2 separate regions of the Homo sapiens genome follow, and region 1 is linked to region 2. Evidence: fine-mapped expression QTL. A gene starts in region 2. The other region holds a variant in brackets. All regions are shown on one strand. Distances are between the middles of the regions. Region 1 has its middle 85 kb from the start of EPAS1. Region 2 holds the start of EPAS1 (endothelial PAS domain protein 1).

Region 1 (5,381 bases), 85 kb after region 2:
GAATAGTATATCCAGCAAAAATATCCTTTAAACATAAAGGAGAAATAAAGACTTCCCCAAACAAAAGCTGAGGGATTTCATCAATGCCAGGCCTGTCCTACAAGAAATGCTAAAGGGAGTACTTCAATCAGAAAGAAAAGGGCATTAATAAACAATAAATAATCACCTGGAGGTATAAAACTCACTGGTGAGTACACAGAAAAACACAGAATATTATAACATTGTAACTATGGTGTGTAAACTACTCTTAAGTAGAAAGACTAAATGATTAACCAATCAAAAATATTTACAACAACTTTCCAAGACACAGTACAATAAATATAAATAGAAACAACAAAAAGTTAAAAAGCAGGGGGACAAAGTTAAGGAGAGTTTCTATTTGCTTGCTTGTTTGTTTATGCAAATAGTGTTAAGTTGTTATCAGGTTAAAATAATGAGTTATAAGATAGTATTTGCAAGTCTCATGGTAAACACAAACCAAAAATCATACAATGGATACACACACACACACACACACACACACACACACACACACACACACACAAAAGCAAGAAACTAAATTATATTACCAGATAAAATCACCTTCCCTAGAGGAAGACAGGGAGAAAAGAAAGAAGGATGAGAAGACCAAAAAATAATCAGAAAACAAATAACAAAATGGGAGGAGGAAGTCCTACTTATCAATAATAATATTGACTGTCAATGGACTAAACTCTCCAATTAAAAGATATGGACTGGCTGAATGGATGAAAAAATAAGACCCATTGATCTGTTGCCTACAAGAAACACACTTCACCTATGAAGACACATATAGACTGAAAATAAAGAGATGGAAAAAAATATTCCATGCTAATGGAAGCCAAAAAAAGCAAGAATTGCCATACTTATATCAGAAAAAAATAAATTTCAAGACAAAAACTATAAGAAGAAACAAATAAGGTCACTATAAAATAATAAACAGGTCAATTTAGCAAGAGAATATAACAATTTTAAATATAAATATATGCACCCAGCACTGGAGCACACAGACAGATAAAGGAAATATTATTAGAGAGAGATAAATATTATTTAGAGAGAGATAGGCCCCAATACAGTAATAGCTGGAGACTTTACCACCCCACTTTCAGCACTGAACAGATGTTCCAGACAGAAAATTAACAAAGAAACATCAGACTTAATCTGCACGATAGACCAGATGGATCTAATAGATAGTTATGGAACATTTCACCCAAGAGTTGCAGAATACACATTCTTTTACACAGCTCGTGGATCATTCTCAAGGATAGACCATATGCTAGGTCATAAAACATGTCTTAAAACATTCAAAAAACTAAAATTATATCAAGCATCTTCTCTGACCACAATGGAATAAAACTAGAAATTAACAACAAGAGGAATTTTGGAAATGATTTTAATACATAGAAAGTAAACAATATGCTCCTGAGTGGGTCAATAAAGGAATTAAGAAGGAAATTGAAAAATTTATTGAAGCAAATGATAATGAAAACACAGTGTACCAAAATCCATGGGATAAAACAAAAGCACTACTAAGAGGGAAGTTTATAGTTATTAGTATCTACATTAAAAAAGAGAAAAAAACTTCAAGTGAACAATTTAATGATGCCTCTTAAATAACTAGAAAAGCAAGAGCAAACCAAATGTAAATTAGAAGAAGAAAAGAAATACAAAGAATAGAGCAGAAATAAATGAAATTGAAATGAAAGAAATGATACAAAAGATCAATGAAACAAAAAGTTCATTGTTTGAAAAGTTAAGCAAAAGTGAAAAATCTTTACCCAGACTAAGAATAAAAGACACAAGATTCAAATAAAGAAAATCAGAAATGAAAAAGGAGACATTACAACTGAAACTGCAGAAATTCAAAGGATCATTAGTGGCTAATATGAGCAACTATATGCCAATAAATTAGAAATCTATAATCAACGGACAAATTCCTAGATACATACAACCTACCAAGATTGAACTGGAAAGAAGTCCAAAACCTGAACAGACCAATAACTAGTAACAAGATTGAAACCATAATAAAAAGTTTCCAACTAAAGAAAAGCCCAGGACCTGATGGCTTCACTGCTGAATTCTACCAAACATTTAAAGAGAATTAATACCAATCCTACTCAAACTATTCCAAAAATAGAGGAGGAGTACATAGTTTCAAACTCATTCTATGAGGCCAGTATTTACCTTGACACAAAAACCAGACAAAGACACATTAAAAAAAAAAAAAAAACAACACACACAGGTCTACATCTCTAATGAATATTGATGCAAAAATCTTCAACAAAATACTAGCAAATGAAATTCAACAATACATTAGAAAGATCTTTCAGTATGACCAAGTGGGATTTATCCCTGAGATTCAGGATAGTCCAACATATGCAAATCAATCAATGTGATACATTATATCAACAAAATGAAGATGAAAACCATATAATCATTTCAATTGATGCTGAAAAGCATTTGATAAAATTCAACATCGCTTCATGAAAAAAACCCTCAAAAAATGGAGATAGAAGGAATATACCTCAACATAATAAAAGCCATATTCAACAGACCCACACCTAGTATTACACTGAATGGGGAAAAACTGAAAGCTTTTCCTCTAAGATCAGGAATGAAACAAAGATTCCCACTGTTACCACTATTATTCAGCGTAATACTAGAAGTCATAGCTAGAGCAATCAGACAAAAAAAAAAAAAAAAAAAAAAAAAAAAAAAAAAAAAAGAAAGGACATCCAAATTGGAAAGGAAGAAGTCAAATTATCTTTGTTGGCAGATGACATAATCTTATATTTGGAAAAACCTAAAGACT[A/G]TGCAGGAAAACTACTAGAACTGATAAACAAATTCAGTAAAGGTGCAGGTACAAAATCAACATACAAAAACCATTTTGAAATGCCAGTAGTGAACGGTGTGAAAAATAAATTTAAAAAGTAATCTCATTTACAATAGCCTCACATAAAATTAAATACCTAGGAATTATCTTAACTGAAGAAGTAAAAGAAATCTACAATGGAAACTATAGAACACTGATGAAAGAAATTGAAGGGGACACCAAAAAGTGAAAAAGAATTCCATGTTCATAGATTGAAATAATTAATATTGTTTGAATATCCATACTATCCAAAGCAGTCTACAGAACCAATGCAATCCCTATCAAAATACCAATGACATCTTTCACAGAAATAGAACAATACAATACTAAAATTTATATGGAATCACAAAAGACCCAGAATAGCCAAAGGTATCCTGAGCAAAAAGAACCAAACTGAAGGAATCACATTACCTGACTTCAAATTATACTACAGAACCATGGTAACAAAAATAGCATGGTCTGGTATAAAAACAGACACTTAGACCAATGGAACAAAATAAAGAACCCAGCTACTCAGGAGGCTGAGGCAGAAGAATCGCTTGTATCTGAGAGGTGGAAGTTGCAGTGAGCTGAGATTGTGCCACTGAACTCCAGCCTGGGTGACAGAGTGACAGAATGAGACTCTAAAAAAAAAAAAAAAAAAGAAGAACTCATTGGATTAGATCGTCAAAGTAAGAGATCATCATTTACTATATGATAAAAAGCTGAATGTATTGTGCTATTATTATAAGACACATTATCTCTGAGTAGAGCTTACAGCTGTTCTTGTATAGAGTTTGAGGAAGGGTAGAGTTCAGGATTGGCAGAGTTTCAGAAGTAAATGTATTCAGGAAATGGCTGATCATTAGCTATAGCAGCATAGATTCTCAAATGAAGGTTGTTGCTGATTTGCTGGCATTCAGAAGCATAGTTACTAAAACAAGTTATAATCAGTCAATTAGCATGAATAATGAATATAAAACCACTTTTGGTGATTGGTTATTGCTAGAGAGTGTATTCTTACCTTAAGAAAATAGGAATATTTTTTATTCTTAAGTTGGACAATAGACTAGACACAGAGAAGACAGATTTAGAGAACTAAAGGAGAGATTAAAAAAAAAAATCTAGGCCAGGTGAGGTGGCTCATGCCTGTAATCCCAGCACTTTGGGAGGCTGAGGCAGGCGGATCACCTGCGGTCAGGAGTTTGAGACCAGCCTGACCAACATGGAGGAACCCTGTCTCTACTAAAAATATAAAATTAGCTGGGTGTGGTGGCACATGCCTGTAATCCCAGCTACTTGGGAGGCTAAGGCAGAAGAGTTACTTGAACCTAGGAGGCGGAGGTTGCAGTGAGCCGAGACCGCACCACTGCACTCCAGCCTGGGCAACAAGAGCAAAACTCTGTCTCAATTAAAAAAAACAAAAAAAAAACACACAAGAAAAAAATATCTAAACTGAAACACAGAAAGAAAAGAAATGGGAAAAAATCAGAAAGGAGCATAAAAGAGATATGAGACACAGTAACAAATATCCAACATACATATCATTGGAGTCCTAGAAGAAGAAGGGAAAGTTAGAATGGGAAAAGAAGCAATATTTAAAGAAATAATGGTCAAGAATTTTCCAAACATTCTATTGGGCCTTTTTTCCTACTACCATTAAAAAATATTTCTGAAATTCTTGTTGTTGTTGTTGTTGTTCTTCAAATATTCCTTACTCTCTTTAAATAAAACATACTTTTTTTTTGTTTTAAAATTGAAAAATGTCTTCTCTCTTAAGGATATTAAGAATAGTATTTGTTGCGTTTGTGAGGTTTTCTTTTCCCTCCCAAATACTTCTTGTTTCTGTTTGTTTTCTGAGCTACATCAACCCTTTAAATAAGTATTTTAGTACTAGTAAACTGAATCCAACAGTATACGGAAAAGTTAATTCACCATGGTCAAGTAGGCTTCATTCCTGGGATGCAAGGTTTGTTCAACATATGCAAAGTAATAAATGTGATTCATCACATAAGCAGAATTAAAAACAAAAACCATATGATCATCTCAATAGACACATAAAAAGTTTTTAATAAAATCCAACATCCTTTTATAATAAAAATCCCCAAGAAACTAGGTATTAAAGGAACATACCTCAAAATGATAAGAGCCATCTATGACAAACTCACAGCCAACATCATACCAAATGAGCAAAATCTGAAAGCATTTCCCTTGAACACTGAAACAAAACAAGGAAGTCCATTCTTACCACTCCTATTCAACATAGTATGGGACGTTCTTACCAGAGCAATAAAACAAGAGAAACAAATGAAAGGTATCCAAATAGGAAAATAAGTCAAGCTATCTCTCTTCACTGATATCATTCTATACCTGGAAAACCCTTGCCAAAAGGCTCCTGGAACTGATAAATGACTTCAATAAAGTTTCCAGACACAAAATCAATGTACAAAAATCAGTAGCATTTCTATACACCAATAACGTTCAAGCTGAGAGCCAAATCAAGAACACAATC
Region 2 (5,381 bases):
TTCAGTTTCTGACATCTGTGATGTCACCGCAAATGCCCACTACCACCAAAACTGGTACTATCAAGGACACCCAGCCAACTAACATTTAGAAAGCAAACTCTTTATTATTAAACATTAACATATTTATCGACGTGTGAACATTCTGGGACAAAATCATCTGCCCACTTCTTGACGGGCCATTGTTAGAACGAATATTCCAAATGTTCTGCCCATATTGCATTTGGGGGAAGAAACTGCTCTGCTAAACCAAAGAAACACAAAATGTAAGAACTAGTGGGCAGAATCATCAGCAGAGAGCCCCCTCACTGTCACATCGCCCTTGTGAGGCACTCAGAAAAGCTACAGCAGTCACTTACATGACAACACCAACTTTCAATGTATTGGTTCACATATTTTAATTACATCTTGGTCCCTAAAGAAGCCTGCAGCCAGCAAACAGACCCAGGCACGAAAAGTAAATGAGTCTCAAACTGATTAGCCCAATAGGAATTGGACAACCCCTTAAGGGGCTCTAGATGGTGAAGGACACGCTGTTTGCCCTGCCATTCTGCAGCACAAAAATCCAGGCAGGTCGAAGAGGGCGGACACCCTCGCGTGGCCACCAGCCCGGAGCCGCAGCTCACACAGCGGCCTCCAAGGCGTTTCGCAGGCAGTCCCCACAGTGGTTCTTAAAGCGGCCGCTCTCGCCAATAATTGGGAGTCTAATTACGCAACGTTCTTCCCGCTCCCATTCCCGCTTCTTCTCTCTTTCCAACAGTCCGCTAACGAACCAGGTACTGTAGCTGGGTGTGTCGAAATCATTTTTCCCCTGCTCCCAAGTTTCTCGGTATATACGGTACAAAACTGCACAAAACCCGGCGCTAAGGAGCGCAGGAGGAGCTGACACTTCACACATTTGTCAAGATTACTGTCAGGCCCCACCTCGGCGATTGCCACATTCCCGATAGGCATCGCAGTTGTAAAATACACAAGTTCCCTCCCCGGCTCCGGACCCGAAAGCGTCTGCAGGCGCTGTCTATAACTTTGCTTTTCGATGGTTCAGTCATTATTAGCATTATGATTGGTTTTTACAAAACGCACTGGAATCTTAAGAGTCTTTTCCTTGCTCTGCTGCCTTCAAAAGACATGGAACCCCAGGACTGCTCCGAGGGCCCTGGGAATGTGCCGGCTGCAGTCTCAGGGCTCCCTCACTTGTCTTGGGTCTGAGGGCGCGACGGTGACGAGAAAGGGGGGACTACGGCCAGGAAAGGGGAGCAGGGCCCAATCCCCTCCCCTAGCGATCCCGCAGTGAAGGGCCCGGGCGCCGAGCCAGGACAGGCGCGATTCGCTCCCGTTTATCAAATCCTTATCGGTGCCCCGAGGTGGGAACCGCTGCTTTCGACCGGAGGATACACGGTTTCTGGCTCCAGTCCCGTAGTGGAAGTTGGAACAAGAGCAAATCAACCTCGGCAGTGAGCCCTCCCGGCCAGTCACCTCCCTCCCTTAGCGAGTCGGTCCTCCTCATCCTCGCACCTCTATACCGCCGCTCCGCCGCTGGTTTCCCGCGGCTCAGGCGGTTCAGCCGGCCGCGCGTTGGATTCCAGCTTCCCGCAGCATAGCCTCGCCAAGCCGCGGCCAAGCGCGGGGCTGGAAGCTCCAGGCCACTGGGGCCGCACGGGTGGAGACAGGAGGAGAAAGGGGACAGGCGGCGAGCCGCACACATTTGCAGAAGTTGAGGCCCTGCCTGCTTCTGCGCGGCCGCGCAGAGGGCTCGAACCCTCGCTCGGGTAGCGCCGGGCCCGGCTGGACTGGGAGCGGCCGGGAGAGGGCGAGAGGGCAGCAAGAAATGGCCAGAGTTGCCTCTCACCCAGTGCCGAGAGGCTCGCGAGGGCAGGCGGGCAGATCGTGGCTGCCCTTCTCTGTCCTCTTCGGAGACAGACACCCGGACCTGCCAGGGACATCCAGTGTTGCCGTCCGCTTCCTACACACCGAACCATCTGCCCCCGCAGGGCAATCCAGGTCACTCACTACCTACTCTCCCCAGAGTCAAGGTGCGGCACGAGGAAGTGGGTTCTCCAACCTTCGGTGGGGTCTGGAGCCCGGCAGCGGGGCGCTCTGAAGGGTCCTGGCTCCTCGGTAGGATCGTGTCCCTGAGCCGCTCTCCGCCTCCCGCCCCCCTTTGCCCACTTGGGCCGCGGCGCGGGCACAGGAGCGCATTTGGAAGGACTCCGCGAATCCAGAGAAAAATAGAGACGTGGATGCTGCCCCAAAATGAGAGACCAGAGAAAGTCGAGGACATGCACCCACAAACATTTCCAAGCGCCGGTGGCCACGGTAATCTGCTGCGGGGCGGCTGGGAGATTTTCAAAGGCACCGCGGAAGCACCTCCGACCTCCAGGCCATCTCCCTCGGCCTCCTGGCCTCGCCGTGCGCGCAAATCCCCGACTCCTCCGAGCCGCAGAAGTCTCCACTGCAAAGCTGCTGATCCGCGCCCCCAAACCGGGCACATGCTCTCCCCCTCACAGCCCTCCAAACCGAGCCTCGAGCTCCGAAGACCTCTCAGCACTCTTCTCCCAACCACTCTCGGTCGCGCCTGCCCCGCGCAGCCCGGCCCTGGCCTCGGACCGGCCCCCTGATCGGCCCGGACGCCCGCTTACCTTTTCTTCTCCTTGTCAGCTGTCATTGTCGCTGTGGCCCTTTGAGACGTTCAGACGCCGAGCACCTGGGCTCCCTGGCGGGTGGGGGGCTGTGGCCCTCGTCCGCTCCCCGCGGCCCGGGCGGGTGGTGAAGGTCCGAGGTGCGCGCAGGTCCCGAGCGCCCCGCGCAGTCAGGTGGAAGGTGGCGCGCGGCGGGCTAGGTGCGGGGGCGGGGGTGGAGAAAGGTGACTGGGAGGAACCTGCGCGCGGAGGCGGGGTCCGGGGAAGGAGTGGGTGGAGGCTGTCAGACCCGAAAAGAGGACGGAGAGAAGGGAACCCAAGTTCCTTTTTCCCTGGAAAAGGAGTCACTTTTCTGAGTTTTCAAAGAAAAAAAAAAGTGGCTCGAATGCTGGGAGTCGGAAGGAGTCGGAGGCCGGGCTGAGCTGACCATACAGTCTCAGGACACTGCCGAGGATTGTACGGCCGCCTCAGGAGCGCTGGGGCGGAAGCGCAGCGGGCACCGGACCCGTGTGGCGGTCCGCTCGCGAGTGTAAAGCTCCCGCGGCCGGCAGCCCACTTTAAAAACTCCGTCGGCCGGCTTGGGGCGGGCACGGGGCGGGCGCGGAGGGCGGGGGGCGGGCACCGGCGCGGGTGTGTGGGCGGGCACGCGCCGGCAGGCCCCGCCCGCGCCGAGCTCCGGGCGGCTCACTGCGTCCCGGCCAATGGGGACGCGCGGCCGCAGCCTCTGCCCTGACCCTGGCCCGCCTCCTGCCCCCGCGCTGCGCCCCGCCTCCTGCCTCCGCACTTCGAGGACTTGTTTATGAGGTCGTCTGGGCGGCGGGTAGCGGGGTGGGACTCCGCGTCGGGGAGAGGCAGCCTGCGCAGGGCCGAGGGGCGGCCGGGAGCCGGGCTCCGGGATTGCTGCGGGGGACGGCAGTTGCGCCACAGCGTCGGTGTCCTCGTACCGGCGCCGTGCCCTTGGAACGAGGGCAGGACCGCGGGCAGCGCCGGGCCAGCGCGGAGCCCCTCCACGCTGCTGCGCTCCTGCGTCCCTGGCCCTCGGGCCAGGTGGGGATAATTTCTCGGCCCCCAGCGGCTGCGTTTCGGGCGTGGGCGATGCGCCCTTTTCGGTGGGACGCAGCTGACTTGACCGTCTGGGAGAAGCAGTGCAAGGAAATTGATCTAGGGCTGCGCCTACTCTTCCTTCCCTCTCCCAGCAGGGTGGTTGCTTACCGGCTTGTGCCAGGCGGTTTGGTTTTGGCGGGGATGCGGCAGAGGAGGCCCTTTGAGCCGCCCGAGGCCGGGGCGAGTTCAGAATTGGAGAAGTCAGTCTGGTTCCCCAGTGTGATCTTGGAGTGACAAGAGTTGGCCATGTGCCCTCAAGTCACTGCATCTCAGGCCTGCCCTCTCTGCCGCCAGGGTCGATGGAAGTCCTGGGAAACCCAAAGGCTACAGGTGTTGGAAATTTGTAGATTTAAGGGCTCACACAGGCAACGGTTAGCGCTCAGGGATTTTCCAGCGGCGCTTTTGACGCTGCCTTCCATCTCCGGGCCCAGTGCTCCCCTGCCCCGCGCTGAGCTGTCTCCCACTCGCTACCGGCGATGGGGAAGGGACATCTGGGGAGAGGACAGGGGACGCCCTTAGTTTTTGAAGGCTGTGGAAGGACCCATGAGTTTCACAGGTGTAACTTGAAGTTGGAAAGCGAGGGCCAAAGAACTGGTCTATATCTCTCCCTTTAGCCTCTTGCCACATTTTATACTAGAACGATCTACAGAAGCGATTTGAAGAGAAGGGTAGGTTTCAGCGCCATAATAAAAATGAACACGTGTTTTCCCCGTGTACACAGAAAGGGTTGGGGGAGATACTTTTCAGGAGCCTGGAGAAGGCGAAGTGGGGAGAGGGCAAAAACTGACGAAGAATTGGGAAATACTTTTTTTTTTTTTTTGAGACTGAGTCCCACTCTGTCGCCCAGGCTGGAGTGCTGTGGCCCCATCTCGACTCACTGCAACCTCCGCTTCCCGCGATTCTTGTGGCTCAGCCTCCGGAGTAACTGGAATTAAAGGCGCCCACCACCACCCTCAGCTAATTTTTGTATTTTTAGTAGAGACGGGAGTTTTACCATGTTGGCCAGGCTGGTCTCAAACTCCTGACCTCAAGTGATCTGCCCAACTTGGCCTCTCAAAGTATTGGGATTACAGGCGTGAGTCACTGTGCCCGGCCGGGAAGTAGACGTATTTTGTCATTTTCTCAGATCTCGGGGCACGGAGCACCTATACAGGTTGATAGTCAACGAATTCAAAGATTGCAAATCTCTCTCTAGCGAACTATTTCATGGGGCTGGTGGGTTTCAGGAACGGGGTGATTTGGTACTGGGCTTCTCCAGCCAGCCATTTCTAGTGGACACATTTATGTATTTTAATGAGTTCAAATTGGTAGATAGTTCTCCCTTAACCATAGGCTTATTTCCCTCACTTGGGACTAGAGTGCGGGAAAAGGGCACCTTGGTGGCTTCCAGGTGCCTACAGTAGTTCACCACAACAGCCTCTGAGTCCTGGACTGTGCTTGACAGATCGAGGCAACACCTCCAACCCATAGAGAACATAGCCTTTTAGATCTTGTTTTTAAAGAGGAAAGGCAAGGAGGGGTCACTCAAGACCACATCAACCTAAGAAGACATGGACACATGGGAGGAACAGCACAGACTGGGGCGTGTCAGAGGGTGAGGGGTGGGAGGAGGGAGAGCATCAGGAACAATAGCTAACGGAT

What was found. PIP is the estimated chance that this variant, and not a neighbour inherited with it, causes the effect.
Region 1: its variant is the best candidate, but not a certain one, in a credible set for the expression of EPAS1 in neutrophils (BLUEPRINT, PIP 0.54).

Annotation. Positions count from the first base shown.
Region 1 is chr2:46,209,972-46,215,352 of GRCh38, reverse strand. No RefSeq gene overlaps it. Among named protein-coding and RNA genes, the nearest start is that of EPAS1, 85 kb to the left of the region's middle. The variant A/G (reference allele first, on the strand shown) is at 2,831.
Region 2 is chr2:46,295,193-46,300,573 of GRCh38, reverse strand. It overlaps EPAS1 (endothelial PAS domain protein 1), which reads right to left and starts at 3,167. Exons shown (of 16, transcript NM_001430.5): 1 at 2,637-3,167. The coding sequence starts at 2,662. RefSeq lists silencers at 2,574-2,903, 3,134-3,713.